3 separate regions of the Homo sapiens genome follow, and regions 2 and 3 are each linked to region 1. Evidence: fine-mapped expression QTL. A gene starts in region 1. Each other region holds a variant in brackets. All regions are shown on one strand. Distances are between the middles of the regions.

Region 1 (10,164 bases):
GAGGAAGGGGGATATGCCCTGTCTTTCCTGGGCCCCTTCCCACATCCTGGCCTTGGCTTCCAATAACTGTTTTGTCTTTCCCTCCCCCGCTTCGTTCCCAGGTTTCGGTCTAAGTACCACCCAGATGAGGTGGGGAAGCGTCGGCAGGAGGCCCGGGGGGCCCTGCAAAACCGACTGAGGGTCTTCCTGTCCCTCATGGAGACTGGCTGGTTTGATAACCTTCTCCTGGACATAGACAAAGCTGATGCCATTGTCAAGATGCTGGATGCAGGTGTGCGGATTTGGAGGGGTGGCAGGCATCTGGGCCCCATGGGGGTGGGGGTGTCTGGGGATCAGGTAGAAGCCGGTTGACAGGAGCCAGGGCCCTGGGGTCATGACCTCTGTTCCCTTTGTTGGTAGCCGTGATTAAGATGGAAGGAGGCACGGAGAATGATCTTCGCATCCTGGAGCAGGAGGAGGAGGAGGAGCAGGCAGGAAAGCCTGGGGAGCCCAGCAAGAAAGAAGAAGGACGGGCTGGAGCAGGCCTAGGGGACGGGGAGCGCAAAACCAACGACAAGGATGAGAAGAAGGAAGACGGCAAGCAGGTCCGAGCCCTGGGTCTCCTAGTGTTGTCCCTGGCAGCCTGGGGGAGGGGGGCGGGTAGGGGTCCATAGGAGCTAGAAGTAGGGGGCTGGGGAAAATGAACCTGTGGCCTCAGCTGTGGGGGTGGGGGCCCTCTGATAAAGGTGGGAGGGGAGGTTTGACATCCCCAGTGGTTGTCTCTTACCATAGGCTGAGAATGACAGTTCTAATGATGACAAAACAAAGAAGTCGGAGGGTGATGGGGACAAGGAAGAGAAGAAAGAAGACTCCGAGAAGGAAGCCAAAAAGGTGAGGTGTCTGTGGCCTGGGGTCAGAGTGTTGGGGCTGGGGTTCTGGCACGCTGACTTGTCCCCTCTGCTGTGGCTCACACAGAGTAGCAAGAAGCGGAACCGGAAGCACAGTGGTGACGACAGCTTTGACGAGGGCAGCGTGTCAGAGTCTGAGTCGGAGTCAGAGAGCGGCCAGGCTGAGGAGGAGAAGGAGGAGGCCGGTAGGGTTTCTTTTCTGCTTTAAAGTGCGTTCTCCTAATGCGGGTGGGGAGGTGAGAGGTTGGCGACATTGACGGGAGGGTGGGTGGCTTTTAGGGGAAAGCTTCTGTATCCTCCCCACCACAATCAGTAATAAAAATGCACCAACTCCTTCCTACCCCCCTTCCTGCCTAGAAGAAGCGCTCAAGGAGAAGGAGAAGCCCAAGGAAGAAGAATGGGAGAAGCCCAAGGACGCCGCGGGGCTGGAGTGCAAGCCGCGGCCGCTGCATAAGACCTGCTCCCTCTTCATGCGCAACATCGCGCCCAACATCTCCCGGGCCGAGATCATCTCCGTGAGTGGGGACCCGTGGAGTCAGGGCAGGGCTGATGGAGAAGTGGAGGGTAGAGGGAAGGCAGTGGGGCCCTGCCTGTGACAGATGCCCCCGTTTCACCTGCTAGGGAGGCCCCTTCCCCAGGTTCCATGGCCTCCGAGGACTAGTCCTGATAGCGCCATTGGCTTTCAGGTGCTGGTGTTCTGAAGCCCTTTAGTGGTTTTTCCCTGCCCAAGGATGGGAAGAGTGATAAGGCAGTTAGTCCCTAGGGTTCTGAGGGCAGTGGGGGATTGGAGGAAGAAGCGAATGAATCCTTGAGTCACTGTGGGGCTGCTTTTCTGCTTCTTGCAGCTTTGTAAAAGGTACCCAGGCTTTATGCGGGTGGCGCTCTCAGAGCCCCAGCCAGAGAGGAGGTGAGTAACTCGGTGCGTTGGAGGGAAAAGTGCAGGGGAACGTTAATGGCCAACACCAACTCCCTCGCTTGACTATGCTAACATTTTCTTTCTTGTGTAGGTTTTTCCGTCGTGGCTGGGTGACCTTCGACCGCAGTGTTAACATTAAAGAGATCTGTTGGAACCTGCAGAACATCCGTGTGAGTGCTGGGGGTGGGACTGTGGGGAAGAGGAAGGGAGACTCTGTGCCACACGGGACCTCTGTGTGACTTTGTTCATCTGATAGTTTGGTTGTTCTGCACACTCTTTGACCGTTTTGTCTGGCTACGTTGTCTCTGGGCAAGGCTCTAGGGCGTTAGCATGGACGGAACCTATGTGGTCCCCGTCCCCAGGGAGCTCGCAGTCTGATCAATCGCTGGTGCTCAAGAGGGAAGGGTCTTAGAGCTGCTGTTTCTCTGGCAAGCGGGGTAAGTGGGGTAAGCTGCTGATGATGTCTGCCCTCCAGCTCCGGGAGTGTGAGCTGAGCCCTGGTGTGAACAGGGACCTGACCCGGCGCGTTCGCAACATCAACGGCATCACCCAGCACAAGCAGATTGTGCGCAACGACATCAAGCTGGCGGCCAAGCTGATCCACACGCTGGATGACAGGACACAGCTTTGGGCCTCAGAACCAGGGACGCCTCCCCTGCCCACGGTCAGTGACTCCCCAAAGGACTTTGTCAGAAGCAACTGGTAGTGCCTCTGCTGTGGGCACCTCTGACCTTACCTATCTGTAGCCTTGAACCCTTGCACCCACTCGCCTGCTCACTCATTTGCCCCTTCGTGTGTGGGTAGCAGCACCTCCAGATTCCAGCAGAACTGGGGGGATGCTAGTGATCATTTGTGGCTGGGGTGGAACAAAAGCTAAAATAAAGACAAATCTCAAGGGGGCAAAAGGTGCCATTTATGTCCGGTGAACTCCTGTCCCCTCGCTGCTCTTTCACTTGTGGAAAGTCTCAGGTTACCTCCTCTGAAGGTCTTCTCTGCCTTACTTGCTTCTCTTCCTCCCATCAGAGCCTGCCCTCGCAAAACCCGATCTTGAAGAATATCACCGACTACCTGATCGAGGAAGTAAGCGCCGAGGAGGAGGAGCTGCTGGGGAGCAGCGGGGGCGCTCCTCCTGAGGAGCCTCCTAAGGAAGGGAACCCGGCAGAGATCAACGTGGAGCGGGATGAGAAGTTGATTAAGGTGCCAGTGGCAGCGCGGGGCACGTGGGGGCTCGGGCGGTGAGGGCAGGAGCTGAACGCTCGCATTCACTTCCCTTAGGTCTTGGACAAGCTCCTCCTTTACCTGCGCATCGTGCATTCCTTGGATTATTACAACACCTGTGAGTACCCCAACGAGGACGAGATGCCCAATCGCTGTGGGATCATCCACGTTCGGGGGCCCATGCCACCCAACCGCATCAGTCACGGGGAAGGTGAGCTCCAGGTTCCCCTTTGTTCCCGGCTGCCCCTGGCCTTGGTCCTCCAGCCCCTTGCCACCATCCTTCCTTCTGGCTCCCTTGCCAACCTTCCTTCCTCTGTTCCCAAACCACAGTGCTGGAGTGGCAGAAGACTTTTGAGGAGAAGCTCACGCCGTTGCTGAGTGTGCGGGAGTCACTCTCAGAGGAAGAGGCCCAGAAGATGGGGCGCAAAGACCCAGAGCAGGAAGTGGAGAAGTTCGTCACCTCCAACACGCAGGAACTGGGCAAGGATAAGTGGCTGTGTCCTCTCAGTGGCAAGAAATTCAAGGTGTGGGATGTTGGAGAATGGCCGTGCTACGGTGGTGGGAGGTGGGGTTGAGACAGGAAGCCCCCTGGGCAGGGGTGGGGGAACTGCTTACTGCACTGGCAGGCGGGAGCTGGGAATCCTTCCAGCTCGGGCCTGGGAGCGAGGCAACCCTTATGTGGCTGTCCTGACCCCTCTCCTCTCTCCACCCAGGGTCCTGAGTTTGTGCGCAAACATATCTTCAACAAGCATGCAGAGAAAATTGAGGAAGTGAAAAAGGAAGTCGCGTTTTTTAACAACTTCCTCACTGATGCTAAGCGCCCAGCTCTGCCTGAGATCAAGCCAGCCCAGCCACCTGGCCCCGCCCAGAGTAAGATACGATCCATGAAGGTCGCATGTGCCCTCTTCCTTGACTACCCAGGGACTCCTGTTTCTCTTTAACGTGTCACCCCGAGAAGTTTCTGCCCCATCCTCAGGCCATAGCCCTAGAAGTCAATTGTACCCGTATCCCCCTCCCCGCCCCCGCAGTAATTCATGTCCCTGTCCGTGTTGTACTCCCCCCAGGTTTGACCCCAGGACTCCCCTACCCACACCAGACTCCCCAGGGCCTGATGCCCTATGGTCAGCCCCGGCCCCCGATCTTGGGCTATGGAGGTAAGTACAGGAGGGAGATGAAGGGGCTTGGTGAGTGTGTGGCTTTGGGAGAAGAAAACAGAGGATGGAATTGAGGACATAGTTTTGCAACTCAACACTGATCTCTGTCATAGCTGGTGCTGTCCGCCCTGCAGTCCCCACAGGAGGCCCTCCATACCCCCATGCCCCGTATGGTGCTGGTCGAGGGAACTATGATGCCTTCCGAGGCCAGGGAGGTTATCCTGGGAAACCTCGCAACAGGTGAGGAGGGCAGACGCCCAAGCTTTGTTGCCGCCTGCAGACTCCCTTTTGGGAGCCCTCAGCTCTCATCCTGTACCTCTCACCTCACAGGATGGTTCGTGGAGACCCAAGGGCCATTGTGGAATATCGGGACCTGGATGCCCCAGACGATGTTGATTTCTTTTGAGCCGTCCCCCGTTCCTCAGTCCTGTATCATCCATACTTGTACTACCTTGTCCTATGAAGCTCTGAGAATTTTTTGTACGATCAGCCTTACTGCTAATAAAAGCACTTCCACAGGGCTCCTGACTCTCGTGTGTTACATAACTCCTCCATCCTTCCAGAGTAACTCCTGAGGTGTTGCTCAGCCCTGCCACTTTTATTATTGATGTCAAAAGCGCCAGGCTTTGCAGGGACACCAGTGGGAGGTACATAGGTGCGTGTCTGGGACCCGAGAATCTCAGTTCTGTAACTTCGTCCTCAGTCCAAGGTGCGCTGCTGCTGTTGGGAGCTAAGGCTGGTCAAGCACAGGTTGTAGAAGGAGTTGGGGTCAAAGGCTGCACTCACCTCTTGCCAGCCCACCCACCCAGCAGCCTGTAGTTCACTGGGGCTTTTTGGAGTGCCCCAGTAGTGAGGGTCCAATACCAGGACATAGGCTTCCGTGCCTGACCCTACGCAGACTCCCAGCAAGGCCTTGGACCTGGCATCTGCGTCCCCCCCAACCATGACTGGGCCCCCACCCCCTGCGAAGTGCGAGTAAAGCCTCTCCAGCTCCCCGTGCAGCCCCACTCCCCGGGGTACGTGGCAGAGGCGTCCCTGGGGCCCTCCGAAGTGAGCGAGGCAGAGGCTGGCCTCCACGCAGCCGATCCAGTCCCGGGAGCCCCGGAAGCCGGGGGGCTTGTCGCCCATGTCCTCCAGGGCCGCCTGTACGGCGGCCAGTCCAGGTACGCCCGCGGGCTGGCCCTCTGGCCACGAGCACAGCGTCTGCAGAGTGCGGTAGCCGCAGCCCCAGCCGCGGTCGTCCAGGCCGTCGCAGCCGTAGTGGTAGTAGAGGTAGTGGCCCGAGAGCAGCGCCAGGCGGACAGGGCCGCGGCTCGGCGGGGACAGGCCCACGTGGACGTCCCTCAGCGGCTCCAGGGCGGTGGGCGGGAGCGGAGGTCCCAGGCCAGGCACAGCGTCCTCCTAGCGGCGCGGAGCGACCTCAGGCTCCAACACTTCCTTTCGGCTCCGGGTCTTGGGCCAGCTGCCGCAGGACCGGCGCGCAGACTGGGGACGCGCTCCCCGGGCCTCGTTGATCACCGCAGGCCGCAATAGGCAGCCACCGACCGGCACCGACCGAGGAGCTCCCACAATGCTCCGCCGCGCCCCGCCCCGCCCCGCCCCTCCCCTCCCCTCCCCTCCCCTCCCCTCCCCTCTCCTCCCCTCCGCCGTGCCAGCTAGCCTGCCTGCGGGCCTCATTACGCAGGCGCGAGCTCCGCCCGGCAGGGCAGGGCTAGGGGTTGGCCTTTGCCTTGCGCCCGCCTCGGAGCTCGCCTGTTTCTTGCCCTCCAGCCCCGCTCCTGCATAGACTCGGCCCCCGTGATTCCGGCGTTCTGCCTCTACCCCTGGCTCCCTAGTCGCGCACACTCCCGTGGCTGTAACAGTTTATTGGCAGCCCAGAGGGGCGAAGGCACCGCGGGGGAGGGAGCTCAGCCTGAGACATGCAGAGGACCGGGAGCCCCGGGGGACGTCGGGGTGGGGTGGGGATGGGCAGAGTCTGGGGCTCGTCTGTGTTATAGCCCAGCCCTGAAATAAATAGTATATACAGCTAGGGGGCCGGGCGGAGCGGAGGACATGGGGGTCCCGCCGGGGTCACAGGTCTGAGCAGCGATCCTGCTTGCTGTAGTGGTCGAACTGGTTCTTCCAGTGCACCATGTAGGAGCTCCAGCGGTGGAACTCGGCCTTCCACTGGCGCTCCGCCTCGTCGAGCGTGTCTGCGGCCAGGGCGCCCAGCGAGGCGGGAGGGGAGGACGGCACGAGGAAGGTCGGGGATCGGACATTTGGGCGGGTTGAAGGGGGGGTATGAGTGCAGGGAGGACGCACGGAGAAATGCAGGCGACCACGTGGGACGGTGGCAAGAGGATCAGGAGAATGTGCGAAAGACGAGAGGGAGGATGAGGGCAGAGGCGGGGCCGGAGAAGGACAGCAGGAAGGAGAGAGGAGGAGAAAAGAATGACCGGAAGACGGGAACAGAGGGGACAGGAGGGGGAGGTTGGGGGAAAAAGAAGAGACAGAAATGGTTGACCGTTATAGCCCCAATGGGGGGTGCTACCCCGTCCGGGGCCTCCCACTTCCCCCCAATGTCAGGCTCAGGTTCCAAAAGATAATTTTATAAAAGAATACTGGCTTTTCCATTTCCATTCAAACAACAAAGGCGTGGGGGTCCCTGAGAAGGGTGGGAGGCACGGCCCCCTCCTCCTGCCCTGTCCAGTGTGAGTCTCTCGGTTTGAGGAGGAAGGGAGCACTAGGTCTGAGATCCCTGAGTGGGGCCCTTCCCCACGGTCCGACCACTCATTAGAGGAGGGGCCCCTGTGGCCGTAGGGGAAGAGGCCGTGTTCACAGCCGCCGGAGGTGGGAGAGGAAGAGGAGGAGAAGCTGGTGGAGGAGGAGGAGGGGCAGGGGGAGGCCGGGCCTCGGAGCAGCCTCCCCATGGGTGAAGCCTGGGCAGGTGCTGGGAGCCTCCGAGGCTAGGGGGAGAAGAGAGGGGTTACACCTGGCGGGCTCCCACTCCCCTCCTCCCAGCCGCTGCCCGCTGGCCCCTGCATACCGGTGGCGCTGAGCAATTTGGGGAGGAAGCGGTTCCAGAAGGCGCAGGCCTGGGCGCGCAGCCCCCGCCGCACCTCCAGCGGCCGCAGGTCCAGACTAACGTACTGCTGAGCCCCCGCCGTGTACGGGGGCCATTGTGGGGCCTTGGGGTCTCGGGGCTCATTGGGATCCCTGCGGAAGGAAGGGAAGGCTCAGTCCAGACGGGCAGTGGGAGGAGGTGGCCCCCAACTCCACGGGATCCCGGACTCTTCAGCTCAGCGGAGAGCCCCAGAGAACCCGTCCCCTCCCTCCCACCACTTTCTCCAATGTGCGCGGTCATTGGGGTCTTCCCTTCCTCAAGCGCTCCGTCTCCTTCCGTTTCCCTCAGCTTTTCTGTTCCATCTTTGTTTCTCTCACTAAAAAAATGGCTAGGATGTCTTGAGACTTTCCTAAATAACCAGGACGGGTCCTATGTCTACAAACATCACATTTTTTAACAACACCCATCCAATGCTAGATTTCATTGTCCTCTTCTCGATCCAGGTAAACTGGTGTGTGTGTGAGAGAATGTGTCACTGCTAGTGAATCATCACTGGTTTGACTTAATCCAGCTCCAACTCCTTTGTCTTGGTCTCCCTTTTTTTTTTTTTTTTTTTTTTCCAGAGATAGGGCCACTCAGGCTGGAGTGCAGTGGTGCCATCATAGCTCACTGCAGCCTCAACCTCCCAGGCTCAAGCAATCCTCCTGCCTCACCTTCCCAAGTAGCTGGGACTAGAGGCACGAGCCACCGTGCCTGGCTAAGTTTTGTATTTTTTTTCTTTTTAAGAGTCGGGGTCTTGTTATGTTGTCCAGTCTGGTCTCAAACTCCTGGCCTCAGGGGATCCTCCCACCTTGGCCTCCCAAAGGGCTGGAATTACAGGGGTGAGCCACTGTGCCCCGCCCCCTCCATGTCTACCTCGTCTCCTCCTCACTTTCCTTTGCCTCTGTCTCTGCAAGACCCCCTCTGCCTTCTCTGTCTCCTTTCTTTTTCTCTCCCCTTTTATCTACTTTGTGAGCATATCCCTCTCTGGCTGTTCTATCCTGCCCCTGTCCCACCCGTCCTTTCTGTCTCCGTGTGTCTGCCTTTGTGTGTCCTCCCGCCCCCGACTCCTGTCCTCCCCAGCCTTCTCTCCCTCTGCACTGCTGACCCTGTGCGGGCAAAGTTGGCCCAGTATCGCATCAGTCGCTGGGCGAAGATTTTCTCCTCTGCCGTGTAGTTTCGAGAGGGGTCCAGGGGGATCCCAAAGATGAACTCGATCTCGTAGCCGTGGGGCACCCCCATCCACAGGGGCCAGGAGAGCGTGGAAGCACGGTGTTCAAAGACGTAGGCGTAGACCCGGGCACCCTGGGCAGCCAGTCGCCCAGCCAGCTGGGCCACGGGGCACACGACATTGTGGTCGCCCACCACATCGCTCAGGGCCTCCCTCAGGCGTGCCGGGTCCTCGGGATGCAGCCAGTCTGTGTAATGCAGGACCACAGCCTCGGCTGCCAGGTCACTTACCTGGGGAACCCCGACCCGCACCCCGGCCAGGAACTCGGCCCGGCTGATGAGAGACTCGTTGTCTTTGCTGAAGCCTGGGGCCCCGTAAACCAGAAAATACGAGCCCTCATCCTTCACCACACCCACCAGCACCTGGGGGTGAGGGAGAGGGGGGTGGGATGGAGCGACAGGCACAGACAGACAAGTAGACAGAAACAGATGGACAGACAAAGAGCCAGAGAGATGAACAGTTACAGACCCGGAACCATGGACAGAGAGAGGACGAGATCAGGGGAGGGATGCAGAGAAAGAGAAAATAGACCCATGGTGGCTTTCCTGTCTGCCCTGCTGACCACCCTGGGATCTGAGCCCTCAGGGAGGACTTCTGGGACTTCTGGGAATGGGCCTGGAGAAGCCCTCATGCCTGGGTCCCTGCAGGGAGGGGAGGGACCGTTGGGACCCAGAGGAGCCAGCTTCACGCCAGCTAGCCACTAGTTACCTGCAGGCCGTGGAAGTCTCCCGCGTTGATGAGGGCCTCTGGGGTGTCACTGAGGAAGTCTCCATCTACCACAGGCACGAAGGAGAACCGGAAGACGCTTTCTTGAGGCAGCACGTGCCATTCGTGGTTCACCAGGACCTGCGCTGGTCGTGTCCGAAGGCAGGCTACCAGCTCTGTGTCATTCCCACCAGTGCCGCCTGGAGGACAGCCCACAAGGTGGGCCAGCTGCGTGGCCCTGCGACGGGCCTCTCCCATGCCCACCGTGGCCCAGGGTCCATTGGGGGCACCGCTCTGCAGCACGGCCCTGTGGAACAGGCCCCGGCTGGGCGGGGACAGCAGGTGCATGCCCACCGAGGCGGCTCCCGCGCTCTCCCCAAACAGCGTCACTGATGTCGGGTCACCCCCGAAGGCTGCCACGTTCTCCTGCACCCACTGCAGGGCCAGCCTCTGATCCAGGAGACCCACATTGCCCGGGGCCTCTCGGCTCCCCGGCAGGGCCAGGAAGCCAAAGGCTCCCACCCGGTAGTTCATGGACACCAGCACAGTCCTCTCGGCCTGTACCAAGAAGCGGCCATCGTACACGTCCAAGGAGGAGGCCCCACTGTAGAAGCCACCCCCATAGATCCAGACGAGGACAGGGGTGGGGGATGTAGGCCGGGGGTATGGTGTCCACACGTTGAGGTACAGGCAGTCCTCGCTCAGCTCACGGTTGGGGTTCCACATCTCGGTGCCCTCAAAACCTGGGTATAGGGTGTCCACATATTGGTAGCAGACACTCTGGAAGGTTGTAGCGTCTACCACCCCTGACCAAGGCTGCTTGGGCTCCGGTGGCAGAAAGCGACGGGGTCCCATGGGTGGCTCCGCAAAGGGGATGCCCAGGAAAGCAGAGACAGGGCCCCCGGGGGTCTTCAGGCGAATGCCCCGCAGCCGGCCCCCACGCACCGTCACCAGCAGCTCTGCATCCTCCC
Region 2 (10,164 bases), 620 kb before region 1:
CAAGAGTTCGAGACTGGCCTGGGCAACATAGTAAGACCCTGTTGCTACTAAAAATCTTTTTTAAAAATTAGCTGGGCATGACGGTGCACACCTGTGGTCCCAGCTACTTGGAAGGCTGAGGCAGGAGGATTGCTTACGCCTGGAACGTTGAGGCTGCAGTGAGCTATGCTCATGCCACTGCATTCTAGCATAGATAACAGAGCCAGACCCTCCTTGGAGGTTCTAAGTTGCCCAAGATCACATGGCTGGTGGGTTGTGGGAATTTGGATAAAAACACATTTTCCTGTTATGTGCATATCCTGAGAAATGACCCTCGGCATAAGCTTTTCCATCTTGGGTTAACAGTGGAAAGGAGTGGAGGGCATAGGCGGGGAGGAGTTCGGAGTGGGGGGGCCAAGGCTGAACCCTAAACTGCTGTTGTCCATTGTGTGACTTGGGGGCAGACAGCTCCTTCCTGTAGAGCTGCTATGAGGGTGAATGATGGGAACTCCCAGCGGAGGCCTCATGCATAGTGGGTGTTCGAGAAGGAACTGCCATGGCTGGGAGCAGTGGCTCACGCTTATGATCTCAGCCCTTTGGGAGGCCGAGGCAGGTGGATCACCTGAGGTCAGGAGTTCGAGACCAGCCTGGCCTACATGGTGAAACCCCATCTCTACTAAAAAATACAAAAATTAGCTGGGTGTGGTGGCACATGCCTGTAGTCCCAGCTACTCGGGAAGCTGAGGCAGGAGGATCACTTGAGCCCAGGTGGCAGAGGCTGTATTGAGCTGAGATTGCACTGCACTCCAGCCTGGGCGATAGAGTAAGACCGTGTCTAAAAAAAAAAAAAAAAATACGGGAACATCAGACACTGGGGACTCCAATAGAGGTTGGGAAGGGGAGGAAGGTTAAAAAAATTACCTATCGGGTACAATGTTCACTATTTGGGTAATGGGCGTACTAGAGGCCCAGTCCCTACCAGTATGCCATATATGCATGTAACAAACATGCACGTGTACCTCTTGAATCTAAAATAAAATAAAATCTTAAACATTAATTTTAATTTTTATTTTTTTGAGACAAGGTCTGGCTCTACTGCCTGGCTGGAGTACGGTGGCACAATCTCGGCTCACTGCAGCCTCCACCTCCTGGGGTCAAGCGATCCTTCCACCTCAGCCTCCTGAGTAGCTAAGACCACAGGTGCATGCCACTATGCCCAGCTACATTTTGTATATTTTGTAGAGATGAGGTTTCACCATGTTGCCCAGGCTGGTCTCCAACTTGTGAGCTCAACCAATCTACTCGCCTCAGCCTCCCAAAGTGCTGGGATTACAGGCATGAGCCACCACGCCTGGCCTCAAATTTTATTAATTGTTGTAAAATACACACAACAAAACCTACCATCTTAACTATCTTTAAGTGTGCAATTCAATCGTGTTAAGCACGTTTGCAATACGGACAGCAACTGCCACCATCCATCTCTAGAACTCTTCATCTTACCCAACAGGAACTCCATACCCACTAAACACCAACTCCCCAGCTCTTGGCAACCACCATTCTTTCTGTCTCTATGACTCCGGCTACACCAGGTATTTCATACAAGTGGGATCTCATGCAGTATTTGTTCTTTTGTGACTAGTTTATTTCACTCAGCATGATGTCTTCAAGGTTCATTCATGTTGTAGCATGTGTCAGAATTTCCTTCCTTTTTCCCCTCTGAATAATATTCCTCTGTGTGAATACATCCCATTTTGTTGATCTGTTCATCCATCAGTAGACACCTGGGTCACTTCCACCTTTAGGCCTTAGTGAATAAGGTTGCTGTAAATGTGGGTGCATGGCCAGGCGCGGTGGCTCATACCTGTTATCCCAGCACTCTGGGAGGCCGAGGCTGGTGGATCACTTGAGGTCAGGAGTTCAAGACCAGCCTGGGCAACATGATGAAACCCCATCTCTACTAAAAATGCAAAAATTAGCCAGGTGTGGTGGCGTGCACCTGTAATCCCAGCTACTCGGGAGGCTGAGGGACCAGAATCGCTTGAACCCAGGAGATGGAAGTTGCAATGAGCCAAGATCGCACCATTGCACTCCAGCCTGGGTGACAGCAAGACCCTGTCTCAAAAAAAAAAAAAAAAAAAAAAATTGGGGTGTGCAAGCAAAACCTCAGGTTTTCGAGCAGAGATCTAGCTCAGAGGTTGGAGTATGTTCAATGTGTTATGGTGAGGGCAAGCCTGAGTATATATGGCACCTAGACACCAGTTTTCCATTTAGGCCAGGCACCGTAGCTCACACCTGTAATCCCAGCACTTTGGAAGGCTGAGGCAGGAGGATCACTTGGGTCCGGGAGTTCGAGACCAGCCTGGGCAACATAGCAAGACCCCATCTCTACAAAAAAAACAAAAATTATCTGGGTGTAGTGGTGAGTGCTTGCAGTCCCAGCTACTCAGTGGGGCTGAGGCAGGAGGATTGCTGGAGCCTGAGAAATCGAGGCTGGAGTGAGCTGGGATTGCATCACTGCACTCCAACTAGGGTGACACAGTGAGACCCTGTCTCAAGAATTTTTTTCAGGCCAGGTGCGGTGGCTCATGCCTGTAATTCCAGCACTTTGGGGAGGCCGAGGCGGGCGGGTCACGAGGTCAGGAGAGCAAGACCATCCTGGCTCACATGGTGAAACTCCGTCTCTACTAAAAATACAAAAAAATTAGCCGGGCGTGGTGGCAGGTGCCTGTAGTCCCAGCTACTCGGGAGGCTGAGGCAGGAGAATGGTGTGAACCCGGGAGGCAGAGCTTGTGGTGAGCCAAGATCGCACCACTCCACTCCAGCCTGGGGGACAGAGCCAGACTCTGTCTCAAAAAAAAAAAAAAAAAGAATGTTTTTCAAAAAGTTTTAATTTAGCACCGTGGATGGCCCACAGGGACCTTGGACACCCAGAATCCCACTGGCCCAGCGCGGATGCAACTGGGCTGGTTTCTCATACTGCAGATCTGTTATAAGAGAAAACCTTTCCAGCTGTGTGCAGGCTCAGAAGAGACCAATTAAACCTTTTACAAGGTTTTTTTGTTTTTGTTTTTGTTTTTTCTGAGATGGAGTTTCACTCTTGTCGCCCAGGCTGGAGTGTAGTGACATGATTTTGGCTCACTGCAACCTCTGCCTTCTGGGTTCAAGTGATTCTCCTGCCTCAGCCTCCTGAGTAGCTGGGATTACAGGCGCCCGCCACCACGTCGGCTAATTTTTGTATTTTTGGTAGAATCGGGGCTTCACCTTGTTAGCCAGGCTGGTCTCGAACTACTGACCTCAGGTGATGCACCTGCTTGGCCCTCCCACAGGTGCCAGGATTACAGGCGTGAGCCACTGCGCCCAGCTACAACTGACTTTTTTGATCCCTGGGAGATAAGTCAACACCGAGGGACGACCGGTCCTAAGCCCTGGACATGGACCTGGGGGTGAGGACAGAAGGGGATCAGGACCAGCCCTCTCATCCTGCACCCTGAGGCATGGGTGATCCCAGGAAGCCACTCACCAGGCACCAGGGTGGCTTCCTGGAGGAGAGGATGCTGAAGCCGACCTCAAGAAGTGTCTGTGTTAGGTTTAAGGACTCATGAGAGTTCTCTGGCTGGACTAAAGGTAGCATGATCACATAGTCAGGTTTGCCCTATTGTCTGCAGGTTGTTGTTATTATTGTTAAGATGATGATGATGATGATGATGATGATGATGAGACAGAGTCTCATTATGTTGTCCAGGCTGGAGTACAGTGGTGCAATCTCGGCTCACTGCAACCTCTACCTCCTAGGCTCAAGGAATCCTCCCACCTCAGCCTCCTAAGTAGTTGGGATCACAGGCAGGCGCCATCATACCTAGCTAATTTTTTTGTATTTTTTGCAGAGTCGGGGTCCCACCATGTTGCCTCCGCTGGTCTCCAATTCCTGAGCTCAAGCGATCAGCCTAAAGTGCTGGGATTACAGGCTTGCTGGGATTACAGGCATACTGGGATTACAGGCATGAGCCACTGCACTTGGCCAACCTAGTAATTATTTTAAGTACTTCCTGCTATTCTAAAAAATGTTTGTTCCCGTCTCAATGATAAATGGCAGGGTCATTTCATTCCTTATCTGTTGCTACATAACAAATTACCCCAAATCTTAGTGGCTTGAAACAACAACAAACTTTTATTATCTCTCACAGTTCCTATGGGTTAGGAATTTAGGTGTGGCTGAACTTGGCAGTTCAAGGCATTGGCTGGGGCTGCAATCCATTGGAAGGCTTGCCTGGGGCGAAAGGATCTGTTTTCAAAGCCCCGCTCTGCCGGTTGAGGGTGGGATGCCTCAGTTCCTCTCCATATGGGCCTCTCCATGGGGCTGCTTGGGTGTCCTCAGGCCTTGGGGGTTGGTTTCCCACAGAGCAAGGGATCTGGGAGAGAGGGAGCGCCACGCAGAAGCTATCGTTTTGTGCCCTAGCCTCGGAAGTCTTGCGGTATTGCTTTTACCATCTCCTAGTGACTTAGAAGAAAGTAGCCAAGACAGACATTTAAAGGAGAGGGGGGTGGAGGGATCCTAGCTTTTTTTTTTTTTTTTTGACACGGAGTCTGGCTCTGTTGCCCAGGCTGGAATGCAGTGGCGGGATCTCGGCTTCACGCCATTCTCCTGCCTCAGCCTCCTGAGTAGCTGGGAATACAGGCGCCCGCCACCACGCCCAGCTAATTTTTCTATTTTTAGTAGAGACGGGGTTTCACCGTGTTAGCCAGGATGGTCTCGATCTCCTGACCTTGTGATCTGCCCTCCTCGGTCTCCCAAAGTGCTGGGATTACAGGCGTGAGCCACGG[C/T]GCCCAGCCGATCCTAGCTTTTAAAACCACCAGCAGCTGGGAGCAGTGGCTCATGCCTGTAATCCCAGCACTTTGGGAAACCAAGAAGGGAGGATCACTTAAGGTCAGGAGTTTGAGACCGGCGTGGACAACAGAGTGAGACCCCCTCTGTACAAAAAAATCTAAAAACTACCACAGTTGGCCAGGTGCAGTGGCTCATGCCTGTAATCCCAGCACGTTGGGAGGCCAAGGCGGGCAGATCACTTGAGGTCAGGAGTTCAAGACCAGCCTGGCCAACTTGGTAAAACCCATCTGAATTAAAAATACAAAAAATTAGCTAGGCATGGTGGTGGTACCTGTAACCTCAGCTACTCAGGAGGCTGAGGCAGGAGCATCACTTCAACCCAGGAGGCAGAGGTTGCAGTGAGCCGAGATCGTGCCACTGTACTCCAGCCTGGGAGACAGAGTGTAACTCCATCTCCAAAAACAAAAGCAAAAGCAAAACAAAACAAAACTACCATGGTTACCTAAAATAGAGCATGTGTTGGGAAGGGAGTAGACAGAGCCAGAGTGGATAGACAGAAGACATCTGATCAAGAAAGAATTCAGGCCGGGAGTGGTGGCTCACGCTTGTAATCCCAGCACTTTGGAAGGCCAAGGTGGGTGGATCACCTGAGGTCAGGAGTTTGAGACCACCCTGGCCAACAAGGCAAAACCCCGTCTCTATTAAAATACAAAAAATTAGCCAGGCATGGTGGTGCATGCCTGCAATCCCAGCTACTCGGGAGGCTGAGGCACAAGAGTCACTTGAACCCAGGAAGCAGAGATTGCATGCAGTGAGCTGAGATCACGCCATTGCATTCCTGCTTGGGTGACAGAGTGAGACCCTGTCTGAAAAAACAAACAAAACCAACAAGGCAGAGATGTGGCCAGGGATTCTGAAGGAATGCATGAAGTCGACCCAGCACCCACTCCAGTTGTGTCCCTCCATCCTCCCGGACTCCCCCCCTGCCCCTGCACTCCCAGCCATGCCCCCTGTGCGGGCCTCTGGTCCTCTCACCCTCTACCTTTGCTGGAGAACACACAGGACTCACGTCTTTTCCTCCCATGGGACAGAAACTCCTTTCGCGCTTCCTATTAGGCCTTGCCTACAGCAGGTACACACTGCTGGGTTTCTGCGTGAACAGAGCATACCAATTTGCACCCACCACAGGACAGCGGCTTGTTCCCTGCAGACACCTTTCTCTTTCCAGCCTCCAGGCGTTTGCTCCTTCAGCCCAGAGGGATGGGGCAGCAATGAGCATTTGGGCTGCCCTAGAGGCAGGAGGCAGGAAGATATCTGGATAGTTCAGGAAAGAGATAAGGACAAAGGAAAAAGTCATAGGAAAAAGATTTGGGAGCTAGGGTTGAGCCAGCCCCTTTCTCTAGGCAGCAGCAGACTATGGCTGTCCTGAGTGGGCACACGCACGGCTCTGGGGCTCACCCTGTACACTCTTCACCCATACCCCTCCCCTGATCCATCTGTACCCACCCACTCCTGTTCTCTGCTTGCTCATCTTGCTTTATCCCCAGCACCTCCTGACATTTTCTCATGCCACCCATCACCCCATTCTTGGATCAGATGATGCCGCCTCCTCTAGGAAGCCTTACTGGCTTGCAGCTCTGTGGTCCTAGAGCATTTTGGCTGCCCCTGCCAGAGGCCTGACACCTAAATGACAGGTGAGGTCCTTGGCTTAGTTCTGTGAGAGCAGTGACAGCATCTCCACTTTCCAGAATCAGGATGCGTTATGTGTGTGTGTAAAAAGTCTTCTAAGCCTGGGCTTTTCTGGCTCTGCCCTCACAAACTGGTGCTGGCCAGTGGCCCCAGGGCCTTCCCAGTTAATGCTTAATGGCTGGGTACAGTGGCTCACACTTGTAATCCAGCACTTTGGGAGTTCCAGGTGTCTTTACTAAAAACACAAAAATTAGCCAGGCATGGTGGTAGAGAGCTGTAATCCCAGCTACTTGGGAAACTGAGGCAGGAGAATCGCTTGAACCTGGGAGACAGAGGTTACAGTGAGCTGAGATCATGCCACTGCACTCCAGCCTGGGCAACAGAGCAAGACTCTGTCTCAAAAAAAAAAAAAAAATGCTTATTGGAGCTTCTAGTAGACCAGATACTCTTGAGAGTGCTTGGCGTGGTTTATCTCATCAAGCCCTCACAACCACTTAGGTTGCAGGCATGATCATCATCCCTGTTTTACAGGTAAGAAACATAGCACAGAGAAGTCAAGCAACTTGCCCAAGGTCACACAGCCAGGATGAGCAGTGCTGGGATTCCAGCCGAGGTGTCCCAGGGCTCTAACTCCCTTGGGCTAGCCTGTCTTTCCCTAAAGGGCAATCAGACAGTGGCCTCAGCCCAATGTGCTCCGAGGAATGACGAGGGCTCTGCATGGACTTTTTGCAATTTTAAGCTTTTCTCTCATAAATGCCTCTTAAGACGTTAGTGTTCACTGGCCAGGCATGGTGGCTCACGCCTCCCAGCACTTTGGGAGGCCCAGATGGGCGGATCACAAGTTCAGGAGTTCGAGACCAGCCTGACCAACAGCTCATGCCTGTAACAGTTTAAATGTTATGTCCACACGCACCTCTGAGAGGCTGAGGTGGGAGGATCATGTGAGGCCAGGAGTTCAAGGCCAGCCCGGGCAACACAGTGAGACCCCCATCGCTACAAGAAATTTAAAAATTAGCTGAGTGTGGTGGTGCGCACCCGCAGTCCCAGGTGCTTGGGAGGCCGAGGTGAGAGGATTGCTTGAGCCTAGAAGTTCGAGGCTGCAGTGAGGTATGATGGTGCCACTGTACTTCAGCCTGGGCAACGGAGACCCCATCTCTTAAAAACAAACAAACAAAAAGCTCTAAGATCTAGTGCCACCTCCTACAGGTAGGCACCCAGCCTTCTAGGTACCCTGCTAGACCAGCCCTTCCCTGACTCCACCCTGCTGTAGAGTGATGGCCTCTTTCTTTCTCTTCCACCAGGCTCTAGGGCTTGGCAGAGGAAGGGGCAAGGTATCTCTGCATCCCTTGGACCCAGCCACACCCCCACACAGAGTGAATGTTTCCTAATGCCATTCCCTTTCCACAACTCCACTGCACGAGAGAGAAGTGACTTAAGTCTGCTAAGGGGCGGAGGGAAAGGTTCAGGAAGGTTTCAGCGTGCTATCATTAGCTCTTGAGGATTGAATAGGAATTTACTAGGGGTGGATGGGGGAGAATATTCCAGGCAGATGGAAGAGAGGTAGATACGAAGGCACAGAGGTATGTAGGGAACAATAAGGGAAATTGTGTATTTGCTGGGGGAGGGCTAAAGATGAGGATTCAAGGCCAGGAGCAGTAATCCCAGGACTTTGGGAGGTCGAGGTGGGAGGACTGCTTGAGCCCAGGAGTTGGAGGCTGTATTGATCTATGATGGCGCCACTGTACTCCAGCCTGTACGACAGAGCAAGACTCTGTCTCTAAAAGAGAAAAATAAAAAACAAAAAAATAAAGATGAGGATTCAGGATCTAGATCCCAAAGGGCCTCGAATGCCATGTCAACGATTTGATGCTATAGAGTGACTGACAAAACTGTAACCGGGCCGGGAGTGGTGGCTCACGCCTGGAATCCCAGCACTTTGGGAGGTGGAGGCCAGTGGATCACCTGAGGTCGGGAGTTCAAGACCAGCCTGACCAACATGGAGAAGCCCCGTCTCCACACAAAATTAGCCAGGCGTGGTTGTGCATGCCTGTAATCCCAGCTACTCGGCAGGCTGAGGTAGGAGAATCGCTTGAACCTGGGAGATGGAGGCTGCAGTGAGCTGAGATGGCACCACTGCACTCCAGCCCGGACAAGAGCAAAACTCCATCTCAAAAAAAAAAAAAAGAAAAGTAAACAGGTGGCACAGGGACCCTCAGGGCATGCTGTCCTAGTCTGGGCTAAACGTAGGTTTTGGAGAGGGAGGTGACAGAGCTATGGGTCACCACCTGGGGGCAGGTATTACAGGAAGAATCTAAGGGGTTCTACCTGGATGGCTGATTATTGAAAACAGTTTAAATGCTATGTTCGCAGGCTGCGACCCATTAACACTTGCTAAAAAGCCATTTCCCACAATCGTCCCACACCATCCACACAGCAGTTCTGTGTCCATGAGGGGGCCAAGTAGTGCTATCTCTATTTTACAGACGGACAAAGTGTGAGCCAGAGGAGAGACTTTGCCTCAGCCACGCAGGCAGCGGGCTCTGGTCACACATGACCTGAAGCCACGATCCGGGCTCAGAGTGCTTGGGGTGGCAGGTCCTCAGGCATTTGACGAATGTTCCGCACCTTCTGAGGCCGGACCATGGAAACAGAGATGGCCTTTGGCCTCTGAGTCATCTTGAAACTGGACTAGTCAGCTGGGTCACCTGGGCCTGGGACAGGACAGGCTGCTTTCTGCAGGAGGGAGGAAGGGGGACCCACTGAGGGACAGGTTTTCTTGTGTTCCCAGAGGCCAGCAGGGGGGCTTGACCCCAGAGACACGCCTATCCATGAGTACCCAAAGGGGACCCTGAGTTGGGGGCTGGAAGAAGGCCAGTCTCTCCACCAAGGGAAAGGGGCTGAGGGACCCTGCCCTTTGCTGCCTTTCTAAGAAGCCCCCAAATGCCCCCTCCTTCCAGCACCCAGGCCCTGTGCACAGCCGCAGCCTGAGTCATCATCCTCATTTGAATGGTGGCCGAGAAATCAGCCAGGGGGCTGCCCAGGGCTGAGGGCCAAGACTTGGAAAAACAAGGCTGTTCTGTTACCTCCAAGCCTTGGAACGTCCAGCCCGGCTAGGGAGTGGGGGGCAGAGGGCAGGCAGAAGCAGGATCTGAAGGTGTCAACAGCCAGAGGGGGCTTTGTGTGAGGGGTGGGGGCGCGGTTCAGAATCCGAGCTGTTGGCTTTTGTTTTCAAATGACCTGTTTAATCATTACCCTTTGCAATCAACGGGGAGCACAGGCTCCGTGGCAGAGGCTTGGCGACTATTTCAAATCTCCATCCCCTACTGAGCAGCCGGAGAAGAAAGTAAACAAGATGCCACCGGCAGGTCTGGCTCCATCTCGCAAACAATAGCCGGACTGAGCACCCGGCTCAGACACACACATCAAAGTGAGATTTCCAAGCCAGAACTTTTCACAGGCAGATAACAGGCTGGGATGGAATTATTTCCCTGTGTCCCTTGAGCTCAGTGCCAAAGGGGGCAGCCTACAGGGGCTGTCATTTTCACGCTAACCTTGACCCGAAACGTATTCATTCATTTTGCAGTGAGGGAGAGCCACCACCGCCCCAAACCGCGAAAAACCAACCAGTAACAACTTTATCATTCCTTTTTAACAGTCACAATCGTGGGCAA
Region 3 (10,164 bases), 39 kb after region 1:
ACCAGAGAACCCCCCTTTGACTGTAATTTTCCTTTACCTACCCAAATCTTAAAAAATGGCCCCACCCCATCTCCCTTCGTTGACTCTCTTTTCGGACTCAGCCTGCCTGTACCCAGGTGGTTAAAAAGCTTTATTGCTCACACAAAGCCTGTTTGGTGGTCTCTTCACACGGACGTGAGTGAAATTTGGTACCGTGACTCAGATCGGGGGACCTCCCTTGGGAGATCAATCCCCTGTCCTCCTGCTCTTTGCTCCATGAGAAAGATCCACCTACGACCTTGGGTCCTCAGATTGACCACCCAAGGAACATCTCACCAATTTTAAATCGGGTAAGTGGCCTTTTTTCACTCCCTTCTCCAACCTCTCTTAGTATCCCTCAACCTCTTTCTCCTTTCAATCTTGGTGCCACACTTCAGTCTCTCCCTTCTCTTAATTTCAGTTCCTTTCCTTTTCCGGTAGACACAAAGGAGATGCATTTTATCCATGAACCCAAAACTCCGGCACTGGTCACAGACTCAGGAAGAGAGTCTCCCTTGGTGTTTAATCACACGGGGATGCCTGCCTGATTATTCACCCACATTTCAGAGGTGTCTGACCATGTGGGGATGCCTGCCTTGGTCCTTCACCCTTAGTGGAAAGTACCGCTTTTCTGGGGGGCAAGAACCCCCTGACCCCTTCTCTCTGTGTCTCTACCCCTTTTCTGCTTTTCTAGGGGGCAAGAATCCCCCAACCCCTTCTCTCCGTGTCTCCACCTCTTCTCCACTTTTCTGAGGGGCAAGAACCCCCTGAACCCTTCTCTCCATGTCTCTACCCCTTCTCCACTTTCCTAGGGGGCAAGCACCCCTGACGCCTTCTCTCTATGTCTCTACTCTCTCTTTTCTCTGGGCTTGCCTCCTTCACTATGGGCAGCCTTCCACCCTCCATTCCTCCTTCTTCTCCCTTAGCCTGTGTTCTCAAGAACTTAAAACCTCTTCAACTTACACCTGACCTAAACCTAAATGCCTTATCTTCTTCTACAATGCTGCTTGACCCCAATACAAACTCGACAGTGGTTCCAAATAGCCAGAAAACAGCACTTTTGATTTTTCCATCCTACAAGATCTAGATAATTCTTGTCATAAAATAGGCAAACGGTCTGAGGTGCCTGACATCCAGGCATTCTTTTACACATTGTTCCCTTCCTACTGTCTGTTCCCAATGTGACTTGTCCCAAATCCTCCTTCTTTCCCTCCTGCCTGTCCTCTCAGTCCCAACCCCAGGCGTTGCTGAGTCTTTCTAATCTTCCTTTTCTACAGACCCATCTGACTTCTCCCCTCTTCCCCAGGCTGCTCCTCGCCAGGCTGAGCCAGGTCCTAATTCTTCCTCAGCCTCTGCTCCCCCACCCTATAATCCTTTTATCACCTCCCCTCCTCACACCCAGTCTGGCTTATAGTTTTATTCCACGACTAGCCCTCCCCAACCTGCCCAGCAATTTCCTCTTAAAAAGGTGGCTGGAGCTAAAGGCATAGTCAAGGTTAATGCTCCTTTTTCTTTATCTGAACTCTCCCAAATCAGTTAGCATTTAGGCTCTTTCATCAAATATGAAAAACCCAACCCAGTTCATGGCTTGTTCGGCAGCAACCGAGACACTTTACAGCCCTAGACCCTAAAAGGTCAAAAGGTCATCTTATTCTCAATATACATTTTATTATCCAATCCACTCCTGACATTAAATAAAACTCCAAAAATTAAATTCTGGCCCTCAAACCCCACAACAGGACTTAATTAACCTCACCTTCAAGGTGTACAATAATAGAGTAGAGGCAGCCAAGTAGCAATGTATTTCTGAGTTGCAATTCCTTGCCTCCATTGTGAGACAAACCCCAGCCACATCTCCAGCACATGAAAACTCCAAATGCCTGAACCGCAGCTGCCAGGGATTCCTCCAGAACCTCCTCCCCCAGGAGCTTGCTACAAGTGCCAGAAATCTGGCCACTGAGCCAAGGAATGCCCACAGTCCAGGATTCCTCCTAAGCTGTGTCCCATCTGTGTGGAACCCCACTGAAAATTGGACTGTTCAACTCACCTGGCAGCCACTTCCAGAGCCCCTGGAACTCTGGCCCAAGGCTCTCTGACTCCTTCCCAGATCTTCTCAGCTTAGTGGCTGAAGACTGACACTGCCCGATCGCCTTGGAAGCCTACAGGACCATCACAGACGCTCTAGGTAAGTCTCACAGTGGAGGGTAAGTCCGTCCCCTTACTCAATTCGGAGGCTACCCACTCCACATCACCTTCTTTTCAAGGGCCTGTTTCCCTTGCCTCCATAACTGTTGTGAGTATTGACAGCCAGGCTTCTAAACCTCTTAAAACTCTCCAACTCTGGTGCCGACTTATACAACATTCTTTTATGCACTCTTTTTTAGTTATCCCCACCTGCCCAGTTCCCTTATTAGGCTGAGACATTTTAACTAAATTATCTGCTTCCCTGACTGTTCCTGGACTACAGCCACACCTCATTGCTGCCCTTTTCCCCAGTTCAAAGCCTCCTTTGCATCCTCCTCTCATATCCCCCCACCTTAACCCACAAGTATAAGATACCTCTACTCCCTCCTTGGTGACCGATCATGCACCCCTTACCATCCCATTAAAACCTAATCACCCTTACCCCGCTCAATGCCAATATCCCATCCCACAGCACGCTTTAAAAGGATTAAAGTCTGTTATCACTCGCCTGCTACAGCATGGCCTTTTAAAGCCTATAAACTTCCCTTACAATTCCCCCATTTTACCTGTTCTAAAACCAGACAAAACTTACAGGTTAGTTTGGGATCTGCGCCTTGTCAACCAAATTATTTTGCCTATCCACCCCACGGTGCCAAACCCATATATTCTCCTATCCTCAATACCTCCCTCCACAACCCAATATTCTGTTCTGGATCTCAAACATGCCTTCTTTACTATTCCTTTGCACCCTTCATCCCAGCCTCTCTTCGCTTTCACTTGGCCTGACTGACACCCATCAGGCTCAGCAAATTACCCGGGCTGTACTGCCTCAAGGCTTCACAGACAGCCCCCATTCCTTCAGTTGAACCCAAATTTCTTCTTCATCTGTTACCTATCTCAGCATAATTCTCATAAAAACACACATGCTCTCCCTGCTGATCGTTTCCAACTGATCTCTCAAACCCCAGCACCTTCTACAAAACAACAACCCCTTTCCTTCCTAGTCATGGTTAGATACTTTTGACTTTAGGTACCTGATTTTGCCATCCTAACAAAACCATTATATAAACTCACAAAAGGAAACCTAGCTGACCCCATAGATCCTAAATCCTTTCCCCACTCCTCTTTCCATTCCTTGAAGACAGCTTTAGAGACTGCCCCCACCCTAGCTCTCCCTGACTCATCCCAACCCTTTTCATTACCCACAGCCGAAGTGCAGGGCTGTGCAGTTGGAATTCTTACACGAGAACCCACACTGCGCCCTGTAGCCTTTTTATCCAAACAACTTGACCTTACTGTTTTGCCTAGCCCTCAAGTCTGCGTGCGGCGGCCGCCACCACCCTAATACTTTTAGAGGCCCTTAAAATCACAAACTATGCTCAACTCACTCTCTACAGTTCTCATAACTTCCAAAATCTATTTTCTTCCTCACACCTGACACATATACTTTTTACTCCCTGGCTCCTTCAGCTGTACTCTTTGTTGAGTCTCCCACAATTACCATTGTTCCTGGCCCGGACTTCAATCTGGCCTCCCACCTTATTCCTGATACCACACCTGACCTCCATGACTGTGTCTCTCTGATCCACCTGACATTCACCCTATTTCCCCATATTTCCTTCTTTCCTGTTCCTCACCCTGATCACACTTGGTTTATTGATGGCAGTTCCACCAGGCCTAATCACCACACACCAGTAAAGGCAGGCTATGCTATAGAACAAGCCACTATCCCACCTCTTAGAACCTCTCCTTTCCTTTCCATCATGGAAATCTATCCTCAAGGAAATAACTTCTCGGTGTTCCATCTGCTATTCTACTACTCAGGGATTATTCAGGCCCCCTCCCTTCCCTACACATCAAGCTCAGGGATTTGCCCCCACCCAGGACTGGCAAATTGGCTTTATTCAACATGCCCCGAGTCAGGAAACTAAAATACCTCTTGGTCTAGGTAGACACTTTCACTGGATAGGTAAAGGCCTTTCCCACAGGGTCTAAGAAGGCCACCACGGTCATTTCTTCCCTTCTCTTAGACAAAATTCCTCGGTTTGGCCTTCCCACCTCTAGTCCTATAATGGACTGGCCTTTATTAGTCAAATCACCCAAGCAGTTTCTCAGGCTCTTAGTATTCAGTGAACTAATGGTCTTTTAAAAACACACCTTACCAAGCTCAGCCACCAACTTAAAAAGGACTGGACAATACTTTTACCACTTGCCCTTCTCAGAATTCAGGCCTGTCCTCACAATGCTACAAGGTACAGCCCAGTTAAGCTCCTGTATAGACACTCCTTTTTATTAGGCCCCAGTCTTATTCCAGACACCAGACCAACTTAGACTGTGCCCCCAAAAACTTGTCATTCCTACTATCTTCTGTCTAGTGATACTCCTATTCACTGTTCTCAACTACTCATAAATGCCCTGCTCTTGTTTACACTGCCAGTTTACACTGTTTCTCCAAGCCATCACAGCTGGTATCTCCTGGTGCTATCCCCAAACCGCCTCTCTTAACTCTTAAAGTAAATAAATAATCTTTGCTGGCAAGGCTGTGCTGAACCTCCTTAGGCACTCTAATTAGATGTCCTAGGTCCTCCCAATTCTTAGTCCTTTGATACCTGTTTTTCTCCTTCTCTTATTCCATTTAGTTTTTCAATTCATACAAAACCATATCCAGGCCATCACCAGTAATTCTACACGACAAATGTTTCTTCTAGCAACCCCACGATATCACCCCTTACCACAAAATCTTCCTTCAGCTTAATCTCTCCCACTCTAGGTTCCCACGCCGCCCCTAATCCCGCTCGAAGCAGCCCTGAGAAACATCACCCATTATCTCTCCATACCACCCCCCAAAATTTTCGCCGCCCCAACACTTTACCCCATTTCATTTTATTTTTCTTATTAATATAAGAAGACAGGAAAATCAGGCCTCTGAGCCCAAGCTAAGCCATCATATCCCCTGTGACCTGCACGTATAAATCCAGATGGCCTGAGGTAACTGAAGAATGACAAAAGAAGTGAAAATGGCCTGTTCCTGCCTTAACTAATAACATTACCTTCTGAAATTCCTTTTCCTGGCTCATCCTGGCTCAAAAGCTCCCCCACTGAGCACCTTGTGACCCCCACCCCTGCCCACCAGAGAACAACCCCCCTTGGACTGTAATTTTCCTTTACCTACCCAAATCTTATAAAACCCCGCTCTCCCTTCACTGACTCTCTCTTCACTGACCACCCCTCTCTCCCTTCACTGACTCT[C/G]TTTTCGGACTCAGCCCGCCTGCACCCAGGTGATTAAAAGCGTTATTGCTCACACAAAACCTGGTGGTCTCTTCACACGGACTCAAGTGAAACTGACCTCAAGTGATCCGCCCACCTCAGCCTCCCAAATTGCTGGAATTACAGGTGTGCGCCCCTGCGGCCAATTTTATACGTTTTAGAGGGATGGAAGTTACAGGCATACGTCAATCAATACGTGTAAAGTGTACATTTGTTCACTCAGGAATCATGGAACAATTTGGGGTGTGGGGCAGGGGGACTTCCAGATCATAGGTAAATTCCAAGATTTTCTGATTGGAAATTGGTCGAAAGAGTAAAGTTATGATCTAAAGACCTGGAATCAACAGAAAGGCGTGTCTGGTTTAAAAATAAGAGGTTGTGGCCTTTTACCTTGTTGCACTTCTGAGAGCAAGATGGGTCACCAGCAGCTGTACTAGAGCCACCAGTGAATATTCGGCCAGGGTTTTCATTCTTGTCACATCGGCCCAAATCGGCATGGTCTGATCTGTAAATATGCCCTCAATATGTACTGCCAGTGTTTCCGTCAGTACAGGAAAGATATCGGTTTCATTAAGTTGCACTAACTGACCTTCCTTGAAAGGTTTATCCAACGCATGTACCCAGTGAAAAACCATGATAGTGGCCGGGCACGGTGGCTCACGCCTGAAATCCCAGCACTTTGGGAGGCCAAGGTGGGCAGATCACAAGGTCAGCAGATCGAGACCATCCTGGCCAACATGGTGAAACCTCGTCTCTACTAAAAATACAAAAATTAGCTGGGCGTGGTGGCATATGCCTGTAATCCCAGCTACTCAGGAGGCTGAGGCACGAGAATCACTTGAACCCGGGAGGTGGAGTTTGCAGTGAGCTGAGATAGCGCCACTGCACTCCAGCCTGGCAACAGAGCAAGACTCCGTCAAAAACAAACAAACAAACAAAAAAAACCCCAAAAAACCATGATAGCTCTTTGCACATAAAATAAACATTTTTTAAAAAGATAAGGGGTTGTGGAGACCACCTGTTTTTTTTTGACAGAGTCTCGCTCTGTTGCCCAGGCTGGAGTACAGTGGCGCAATCTTGGTTCACCGCAACCTCCACCTCCCGGGTTCAAGTGATTCTCCTGCTTCAGCCTCCCGAGTAGCTGGGACTACAGGTGCACACCACCACACCTGGCTAATTTTTTGTATTTTTAGTAGAGACAGGGTTTTTCCATGTTAGCCAGGATGGTCTGGATCTCCTGACCTTGTGATCTGCCCACCTCGGCCTCCCAAAGTGCTGGGATTACAGGCATGAGCCAAGACCAAGGTTCTTGTTATGCAGATGAAGCCTCCAGGTAGCAGGCTTCAGAGAGAATAGATGGTAAGTGTTTCTCATCAGACTTAAAAAGGTGCCAGACTCTTAGTTATATCTCTCCTGAATCAGGAGAAGACCTGGAAAGGGAAGGGGACTCTCTACACAGTGTAGATTTTCCCTACAAGAGACAGATTTGCAGGGCTGTTTCAAAATATGTCAAAGAAAAATTTATTTTGGGGTAAAATACTTCTGTTTCTTTCAGGACCTGCTATCTGTCATGTGATGCTGTACTTCAGTCAGGTTGGAATTTGGTATCTTATTGCTACAAAGAGTCTGTTTTGTCAGCCTTAAGATCTCTGTGTTGATGTTAATGCTGGTCAGTTGTGCCTGAATTCCAAAGAGATGAGGGCAGAATGAGGCATGTCCAACACTCCTTCCCATCATGGCCTGAACTAGTTTTGCAGGTTTACTTTGGAATGCCCTTGGCGAGAAGGAGTCCGCTCAGTAGGTTGGGGGGCTTAGAATTTTCTTTTTGGTTTACAGGTGCAAAGCTTGTGATTTAGCCAGGAGATTTCCTGCCCCTCCCAAGGGGGCAGATTTTGCTTCAACCCTCCCTCACCATGTAATGAGGGGCTGGTCCTATCCCTCCCCCAGAAATACATGGCCTTACTTGTACCCTTACTTCCACCAGGAGTGAACCTTTGCCTGTCCTCAGGGGATGGGAAGGATTCCTGCCCCTTCCCCTGAGGCTTAAGTCCTTCTGCTTCTTGTGAGACAAGGTTCTGGGAGGTAGGAGGGGGTTCATGCCTGAGAACCACTGAGGGAGCCTCTTTCTTGTCTCATTGTACCTCCAATCTTTCTCATGAGCACCAAGAGGTGGAAAAGAGATTGCGAGTGAACTTGGGGTCTGCTAGATCCTGATGCACCCAGGGGGATTCTAAGTTGTCATGCTGGCCCACTCCTGGCCTCTGAGAATTCATTAAAATGTTGTTTTCCTATCACCTGCTTTTTTGGTGGCCACTTCTTCCTCCTGTGCTCTGACAAAGGTGGAACTTTTCATGTGTCCTGTCTCTCCTGAGAGGGTGCGGTCACTCTTTGGACCTCAGTTCACCTGGTTGCCTTGAAGCCTAAATTTCTGATGGGCTCAAGAAATGCCAAAACCTATAGATTACCCAGCTTTTTCTTCTTTTTATGGTAGGAGTGATAGTCTCTTGTGGATTTATTTTATGTATTAATTTTATTGCACTTTTTGTAGAGATGGGGGCCTTGCTAGGCTGCCCAGGCTGGTCTTGAGCTCCTGGCCTCAAACGATCCTCCTGCCTTGGCTTCTCAAAATGCTGGGATTACAGGTGTCAGTCACCATGCCCAGCCTCTTGTGGCTTTTTTACTCTAAGTGAAAGCATAAATCCAATAATTTTTATTTTTATTGTTATTGTTTGGAGATGAGTCTCACTCTGCCACGCAGGCTGGAGTGCAGTGGTACAATCCCGGCTCACTGCAACCTCTGCCTTCCAGGTTCAAGTGATTCTTCTGCCTCAGCCTCCTGACCAGCTGGGATTACAGGCACATGCCACCACGCCTGGCTAATTTTGTATTTTTAGTAGAGATGGAGTTTCACCATGTTAGCCAGGCTAGTCTCAAACTCCCGACCTCAGGATCTGCCCACCTCGGCCTCCCAAAGTGCTGGGATTACAGGCGTGAGCCATTGTGCCCAGCAAAAATCCAATAATTTTTAATAACTCAAAATATGATTTTGACTACGTAAATTTTTTTTTTTCCCTTTGTCCCTCTTTGTAATTTGATGCTTTGGTATCTCAGTTCTAGTTTTTGATTTGGCTCCAGGTAGTACAAGTTCTCATGGATTACATGTATGGTTTAGAATCCTGAAGTCAATGAGATGAGAGCAGACCTAACATCAAACACTTGAAGTAAAGAAATTTATGTGGAAGGAATATATAAAATGAGTTTACATTGGGTAGTTTGGATAAAGCATAACATTAGAGAAGGGTACATGTAGCTAGATGTGTCTTTACCTTTAAAAAAACTTGAATATTGAGGCTGGGTGCAGTGGCTCATGCCTGCAATCTTAGCACTTTTGGAGGCCAAGACGGGCGGATCACTTGAGGTCAGGAGTTTGAGACCAGCCTGGCCAACATGGTGAAACTATTTTTAGTCTCTACTAAAAATACAAAAATTGGCCAGGCATGGTGGTGCATGCCTGTAATCCCAGCTACTCAGGAGGATGAGGCAGGACAATCACTTAAACCTGGGAGGTGGAGGTTGCAGTTAGCTGAGATGGCACCACTGCACTCCAGCCTGGGCAAAAGAATGAGACTCAGTCTCAAAAAACAAACAAAAGAACCCAACAAACTTGAATAGCGAAAGGAGGATATTTTGATATGTTATTTCCATTTTCAGTAATAAATACATGTGTGTATCCAATAACTTATTAAAATGTAGATTTGTTTATTGAAAAACTTATTAGCATGAGGTCAGGAGATCAAGACCATCCTGGTTGACACAGTGAAACCCCATCTCTGCTAAGAAAGTACGAAGGAAAATTAGCTGGGTGTGGTGGCAGTGGTAGGCGCCTGTAGTCCGAGCTACTCAGGAGCCTGAGGCAGGAGAATGGTGTGAACCCGGGAGGCGGAGGTTGCAGTGAGCCGAGATCGTGCCACTGCACTCCAGCCTGGGTGACAGAGAGAGACTCCATCTCAAAAAAAAAAAAAAAAAAACAAACAAACTTATTAGGAGGTTTTAGTGGCAGATTAGACAGAGCTGAAGAGAGAATCTGTAAACTGAGAGAACAGAAGAAACTCACCACATGCTTCATGAGCAGCTATGAGACAGAAAATACGGAAGAGTAGTTAAAAACACATGAAGAATAGAAAGGGAAGGGTTAACCTCTATTTAATTGCAGTTCCTGGAGAAAAGAGTTAACGGGGGAAGAGAAAATATGTGAAGAGAGAATGGCTGGCAAGTTTCCCAAACTGAGAAGAGACCTTATCAGCTTTGAGAAGCCAAGGAATCCCAAGCATGATAAATACAAAGAAATCCATGCCCAGAAACATCCTGGTGAAGCTTCAGAATATTAACGAAACAGAAAGTCTTAAAGCAGCAAGAGAAAAAAAATTAAAGGCCTGACAGATTAAGCTCAGTCTTCTGTATAGCAACCTTGAAGCCGGAAGACAATGGAATCTTATTCATGTGCTGAAAAAAAAAAAAACTGTCAACTTAGAATTCTATACCTAGTAAAAATACTTTCAAGAGGCCGGGTGCGGTGATTCACACCTGTAATCCCAGCACTTTGGGAGGCCGAGGCAGGCAGATCATGAGGTCAGGAGTTTGAGACCAGCCTGGCCAACGTGGTGAAACCCCGTCTCTACTAAAATACAAAAAAAT

Evidence for each region.
Region 2: its variant is fine-mapped to the expression of UFSP1 in breast (GTEx, PIP 0.96).
Region 3: its variant is fine-mapped to the expression of UFSP1 in whole blood (INTERVAL, PIP above 0.99).

Annotation. Positions count from the first base shown.
Region 1 is chr7:100,883,969-100,894,132 of GRCh38, forward strand. UFSP1 (UFM1 specific peptidase 1) reads right to left here and starts at 5,747. Exons shown (of 1, transcript NM_001430944.2): 1 at 4,753-5,747. The coding sequence starts at 5,531. The coding sequence ends at 4,875. It overlaps SRRT (serrate, RNA effector molecule), which reads left to right. Exons shown (of 20, transcript NM_015908.6): 6 at 102-271; 7 at 400-584; 8 at 772-870; 9 at 955-1,072; 10 at 1,245-1,402; 11 at 1,733-1,794; 12 at 1,895-1,973; 13 at 2,279-2,467; 14 at 2,827-3,000; 15 at 3,079-3,232; 16 at 3,352-3,545; 17 at 3,735-3,891; 18 at 4,074-4,175; 19 at 4,289-4,415; 1 more. The coding sequence ends at 4,581. ACHE (acetylcholinesterase (Yt blood group)) reads right to left here. Exons shown (of 5, transcript NM_000665.5): 2 at 9,197-10,164; 3 at 8,366-8,850; 4 at 7,201-7,370; 5 at 6,026-6,367. The coding sequence ends at 6,246. RefSeq lists enhancers at 1,836-2,569, 6,240-6,973, 6,691-6,750, 6,974-7,706, 7,987-8,726 and 1 more and silencers at 5,771-5,820, 6,912-7,069, 7,141-7,190.
Region 2 is chr7:100,260,743-100,270,906 of GRCh38, forward strand. It overlaps LOC105375426 (a long non-coding RNA gene), which reads right to left and starts at 6,742. Exons shown (of 2, transcript XR_927809.2): 1 at 5,874-6,742; 2 at 4,125-4,388. It also overlaps the pseudogene CASTOR3P. RefSeq lists enhancers at 8,537-9,059, 9,584-10,105. The variant C/T (reference allele first, on the strand shown) is at 4,801.
Region 3 is chr7:100,922,488-100,932,651 of GRCh38, forward strand. It overlaps the pseudogene RPS29P15. Among named protein-coding and RNA genes, the nearest start is that of MUC3A, 22 kb to the right of the region's middle. RefSeq lists enhancers at 4,994-5,951, 5,952-6,908. The variant C/G (reference allele first, on the strand shown) is at 5,452.